Homo sapiens: one gene and its partner. The protein of the gene in region 1 purifies or fractionates together with the protein of each later gene. This does not show direct contact. Each region holds a gene or a part of one and is shown in the gene's direction. Other genes may lie near its edges.

What was found.
Region 2: the proteins of RERE (region 1) and SETD1B purify together in Homo sapiens (affinity purification with mass spectrometry, with the first as the bait; one large-scale study listed by BioGRID). This does not show direct contact.

Annotation. Positions count from the first base shown.
Region 1 is NC_000001.11:8,811,127-8,814,640, reverse strand, and holds part of RERE (arginine-glutamic acid dipeptide repeats protein), read left to right. Parts: intron 1-3,514. UniProt on the Homo sapiens protein: Plays a role as a transcriptional repressor during development. May play a role in the control of cell survival. Overexpression of RERE recruits BAX to the nucleus particularly to POD and triggers caspase-3 activation, leading to cell death.
Region 2 is NC_000012.12:121,827,995-121,830,582, forward strand, and holds part of SETD1B (histone-lysine N-methyltransferase SETD1B), read left to right. Parts: coding exon 1-76; intron 77-2,071; coding exon 2,072-2,245; 3' UTR 2,246-2,588. UniProt on the Homo sapiens protein: Histone methyltransferase that catalyzes methyl group transfer from S-adenosyl-L-methionine to the epsilon-amino group of 'Lys-4' of histone H3 (H3K4) via a non-processive mechanism.

The DNA of each region.
Region 1 (3,514 bases):
TTTTCTTGGGATTTAAACCAGGTAGAGGGGTAGAGGAGGAGTTGAAGGAGGGAAATCTCACTAAAATCGGCAATTTTGCAAATGTAGTGGCCTTGCATTGCAGTAGTGTTGTTTTCAGTAGTCTTATAAAGTCTGATAGGGTGACTTATTGTATGGATTAGATAAAGAATTTAAAATTGGAAGCCAGAGAAAATGTGAAATGAGTGTGTACACAAATTATCATAGAAGAGGGTCAAATTGTTGCCCAAAGGCTTGTAAACTAAGGTGCAGTTTCAGAGATAATCTGCTTAATAAATGTCTCAAAGGATTTTTATTTTCACAAATCCTGGCCCATCTCAGTTGTTCTAATGTAATGAACTATTAGAGAGGTTTGCAGTGGTAAAGGGGACTGGGTGTGTAGGATAAACATCTGTTCCAGACTGACTGCTTCTAGGAATGTGACTTCTGATTCACTTTACTTTCAAAACTTCAAGAGTAATCTCTAAAGTTGTGTATCTTTTACAATGAAATGTGAACAGTTCAAATGTATTATTTTCTCAGTGGGAATGGATTCAGGGGATTTCAGTTCAATATATTCTCCATCAGTGTTTTGTCACAAGGAAACTAGAACTGAGAACCAATTCACAACAAAAAGGTAATCCAAATCAAGAAATAAAATGTACCAGTTACCTTTTCAACTTTGATTTACTGGTCAGTCGAAAAAGCTTTTAAAAAATAGGACAGTAAGGCCTAGTGCGGTGGCTCACGCCTGTAATCCCAGCACTTTGGGAGGCCAAGGCGAGTGGACCACTTGAGGTCAGGAGTTCGAGACCAGCCTGGCCAACATGGTGAAACCTCGTCTCTACTAAAAATACAAAAATTAGCCTGGCACTTTGGCGCGTGGCTGTAATCCCAGCTACTTGGGGGGCTGAGGCACGATAATTGCTTGAACTCAGAGGCAGAGGTTGCAGGGAGCTGAGATTGGCACCACTGTACTCCATCCTGGGTGACACAGCGAGACTCTGTCTAAAAAAAAAAAAAAAAAAAGGAAAAAATAGGATAGTAAACACTGTCAGGTCCTGCAATAATTATGTGTAATACTGAACAGATACTGAACAGAAATGTTCCAGGTGCTGTAAAAACACACATATAAGAATATAATCTGTGCCCTTCTAAAAACCTGTATATGCTGAATATTATCATGGATTTAGTAAGCATTCATTACTTAAAAATTAGTTTCAAATATCAGTGATCAAAAAAAATTTAAGTAGTAAAATAAGTTGGACATACCAAGTTCTTTTGAGAGTAGTATGCTTTCCTACTAAGCTACTTTTGGCAGCTACTTTTGCAGTCGATTTAAAGGTTAAGATAGCAGAAAATTCAAATGTTTAAGTGAGTCATTAGTGTAACCTAGCTGTGAACTTCGTTACACACACATACACACATCCTGAAAGAAAAGCTATTGTTTTACATAATCAGTTTCTGATAATGCTGTGCTCTAGTTAATTACGGGATTTCTTTTTTTACTACCAGGAATTCCTCTTGAATGATATTTAAGTGATTGTTGAATCATATTTGTGTGATTGGTATCCTGATAATTATTCTGAAGTTGAAGCTCTCCTTGTCCTATTTAAGTGTGATTTTGCCGAGCCTTTTGGCTTATGTTTGGTTTCTTGTCTAACAGAGTTATAGTTTGTGTGTGTGTGTGTTTTTTTTTTAAATAATGGAGGAGAAATGAGCATTTTAAATATGTGTTAGAACATTGTTAAGATTGCATAGGCCAATTTAATGAACATTTGAACACAACTCAAGTTCAAATACTAAATATATTTACTAGCTTCAAGTTTGGGTTGGAATTGTGATTTGTATAGCTAACTTGTTGGTGTGCCAAGTAATATAAGATGTACTGTGTGTCTGTACATTAGGTAACTAGGTCAGAGAGTACAGTTAATATAAGATGCTTTTTTTGGTAAAGTGGTCTGTGCCAGTGTAAAATTATTATTATTATTATTTTTCGAGATGGAGTCTTGCTCTGTCACCCAGGCTGGAGTGCGATGGCACGATCTCGGCTCACTGCAACTTTGCTTCCCAGGTTCAAGCGATTTTCCTGCCTCAGTCTCCCGAGTAGCTGGGATTACAGACATGTGCCACCACACCTGGCTAATTTTTGTATTTTTAGAAGAGACAGGGTTTTACCATGTTGGCCAGGCTGGTCTTGAACTCCTAACCTCAAGTGATCCACCTGCCTTGGCTTCCTAAAGGGCCGGGATTACAGGCGTGAGCCACTGCACACGGCATATTTTTAACTGGTAAAATTTGCCAGTATGTCAGCAAGTGTGAGCAATATATTTAACTGTGAAAATTTTCCTTATATGGTTAGTTATAAAATGATGTGGCCTCTAATTCATAAACCACTCGGTATTTGAGGAATCCTCATACCCTATTTGTCTTGGGTATTTGCATCAGAAGTCGAAGCCATGGGTTTTATCTTAATTTTAAAGTAGTTATATACATGACTTTTAAGGACTTTGGTTAGGCTGTTTTTCATTGCAAGGAACAGAAAGTCTTCCGAGTCATCTCAAGTTGGGGAAAAGTAGAACAGAAATTTAAGCCGTACGAGCCAGGCCTCACCTAAGAACAAAAACCCCAGGTCTGCAGTGCCTCATACATACTGGAATACTGTCAGGGATATGGGTCCCACCCAGCTTTAGCGACCAGATACCTTGTTGCCTCCTCAGCAGGAGGAGTTTGTGGCGCCTTACCCTAGTGCCATGGCCCTGTATATGAATGTCCAGGCTGTGTGTTGCAATAAATATACCACCCCAAAGGGGACAATATTAATGTGGTTGGCCTGGACTAACCTTAAAAGAGAGCTTGTGAGGAAGCATGGCTGTGCAGCATCTTCAGACAGTCCTGCAGCAGCAGGGCAGAGCTCCTCCTACAAAAACCCATTCTAGCTCACGCAGCCATGCACACACTTAGCAGAGCATGCACGGACACATTCATTGGCACCTGTATATGTTCCCTAGGCTCCCAGAAGTCTGATTCTTTTTTGAGAGAGGGTCTCGCTCTGTTGTTCAGGCTGGAGTGCAGTGGCATGAGCATAGCTCACTGCAGCCTTGAACTCCTGGGCTCAAGTTATCCTCCCTCCTTGGCCTCCCGAGTAGCTGGGACTGGGACTAGAGGTGTGTACCACTACACCTGGCTAATTTTTTTTTGTAGAAATCAAGTCTTGTCATGTTGCCCAGGTTGGTCTTGAAGTCCTAGGCTCAAGTGATCCTCCTACCTTGGCCACCCAAAGTCCTAGGATTACAGGTGTGAGCCACCATGCCCAGCCAAAGGTCTGATTCTTGACCTTCTTCCTGCTTCTGGGGTGGGAAGCAAGGGAGTACAGTGATGAAGGCACTCAGTGTGTGTGGGGTGAATACAGTTCAGGGGGAGTGTGAGCAGATGAGCATGTGGGCATATGTCTGTCTGTGTGAACTGCCTGGGGAGGCACTGGAAATGTTCTCTGGCAGGACCTGGCTATGCTGGG
Region 2 (2,588 bases), on another chromosome or scaffold:
CCGGGTGGACCATGACACCATCATCGACGCCACCAAGTGCGGCAACTTCGCGCGCTTCATCAACCACAGCTGCAACGTGAGTGCCCAGCGGGGGGTGGCCCCTGCCCCTGCTCCTGCCCCTGGCCCTGCTTCTGTGCCAGGAGGGCCTGGAAGCCCCGGCACGGGAATCAGCTCGGCCTCCTTCCCAAGCTCAGGTTGGCCAAGGGTTATAGGGAGAGGAGGACATGTGAGGTCTTTTACCAGGAGCTCTACTCCTCTGAGCCTCAGTTTCTCATCTGTCAAATGGGCATAGTGAGACTTCTGTGGCATTTAGAGGACTCAAAGAAGTGGTTGGTTCAGTTCATTGGTAATTTCGGAGTTATTTCTCTGCGTTAGCCTTTTCTCCGTGCCTTCATTGGTCAGGCTCAGTCCTGCTCGGGCCGAGCTGTCCACTAGAACTTTCTGCAAGGGGGAGGTGCACTGCGTGCATCTGTGCTGTGGGTTAGCCACATGTGTGGTGGTGAGCACTGGAAATGTGCCCAGTGCATCTGGGGACCTGAGTTTTAAATTTTATTTCATTTTGATGAATTTAAACTTAATTAGCTTGTGACGACTGTATTGGGTGGTGCAGGCCTAGAGGGGAGGGACACTGATAACAGGGATTTGAGTGCTGAAGGAAGAGCACAGGAAGCTCTGAGCAGGAGGCAGGCATGTTCCGGGGTGGATGCCCCTGACTTTGGGTTCAAGTCTTGGCATTGCAGCTTAGTGAGTTACTTAATGTCTCTTATGCCTGAGTTTCCTTGTCTGTAAAACAGAGACAATAACAGTCTCTCCTTTTAGGTTGTTGGGAGGGCCACATAGGTGGGTCACTGCACGTGGGCCATTTGAGTGCTGGCCAGGCCAGTCCTCAGCGCCTGCTGGCTCTCTTCGTTGTGACTTGATCCTTGCCTGGGTGGTAGGGACTTTCCTGTGAATATCCGGGGAGATCTGAGGGGTGAGAGGGAATTGCCCAGGGGAAGCGGTGCTGGGGCAAGGGGAACTGCGTGTTCAAAGGCCCTGGGGCAGTTGGGAGAACACCTGTTTGAGAGATAGCAAGGGAGGCAGTGGGCATGGGGTGGGGTAAGAGGATGGGGTGGGCAGGGCTGAGGGTGGCCAAGCTGAGGAACTAAGTTTCTCTGAGAGCCAAGGTCGCTGGAAGGTTGGAGCCATCGGGCAACAGGTTCTGCTATCCCTTTGGAAACGTTTCCCTGGCTGCTGGGGCAGGAGTGGATTTTTTCAGGGGTGAGAGTGGCCAAGGGGGCTGTAGCAGGCGGGTGAGCAGTGATGGGGGCCTGAGCGTGGCTGGTGGCCCCAGAAGTGGAGAGCAGTAGACACAACCAAGAGGCCCTTCCGGGACTGAACTCACCGGCCCTGGTTGGGGCCAGATCTGGACTGAAGGAGGCAGGGAGGCAGATGCTCTGGGGCCTGGGTGTGTGGTGCAGCGGCTGCCCAGAGCAGGAGCAGATCATGCTTTAGGTGTGAGCTAAGTCAAAGACAGTACCCAGGGCTGCCACTGGCAGACAGCAGGTAGTTGCATTTATGGGCTTGGAGGCCTTTACCTTTTCTGTAAAGGGCCAGATAATAAATGTTTTTGGCTTGGTGGCTCAGATGATCTCTATGGCAACTACTGAACTTGGCTATTGTAACAAAAGCAGCCACAAATTATATGCAAATGAATGGGAGAATGGATATGGCTATGTGCCAGTAAAACTTTATTTACAAAAACAGGCTGCTAGGGGCTATAGTTTGCTGACCCTTTTTTTAGAGCTCAGAAGTGAGACCTGAGCTAAAAATAGACATACATTTGGGAGGCACTTGTACTACGAATGGAAATGAAAGGCCTGGGAAATAATTTTTATCATCATTATTTAATATCAGAGGCAAGGGGTCACCCCTGGGGGTCGGGGGAGCCAAGGTCCAGAGCAGAGCAGTGGGCTGGGGGTCACGTGGCATGTCAGGCCTTAAGCACAGGCCTGGTTGGGTTTGGGGGGTCTGCAGTGGTGGGGGACCCTGGGGGACCAGGGGCTCATTCTCCCCCCCACCTTGCCTGCAGCCCAACTGCTATGCCAAGGTGATCACGGTGGAGTCACAGAAGAAGATAGTCATCTACTCGAAGCAGCACATTAACGTCAATGAGGAGATTACCTATGACTATAAGTTCCCCATCGAGGACGTCAAGATCCCCTGCCTCTGTGGCTCCGAGAACTGCCGGGGGACCCTCAACTAGGCCCCGGCACCAGACTCAAAGGATGTCAGCCGTAGCCCTGGGACTCCCGAGCGTGGAGCCCCTGGCCCCGGGGCCCGGCCCCCCGCGCCCGCCCCCATTTCAGGTGCTGTCCTCTACCCAGCGGCCATTCAGGGCCTGGCGCCCCACACTACCCCCTGGAGCCCCTGGCTCCGGCCCCTCCGCGGGAAAGGGCTTCTCTGTCGTTCAGCCCACGTCTCTCTCATTTTAACAAACGCCCCTTTCAGGATTTCTGTTTAACTCCAGCATCAGCTTCTCTCTCTCCGTCTCTCCTCCCCTCTCTCTCTTCTCTGTCTCTTCTCTCTCCCACCATCACCCTCGGCCT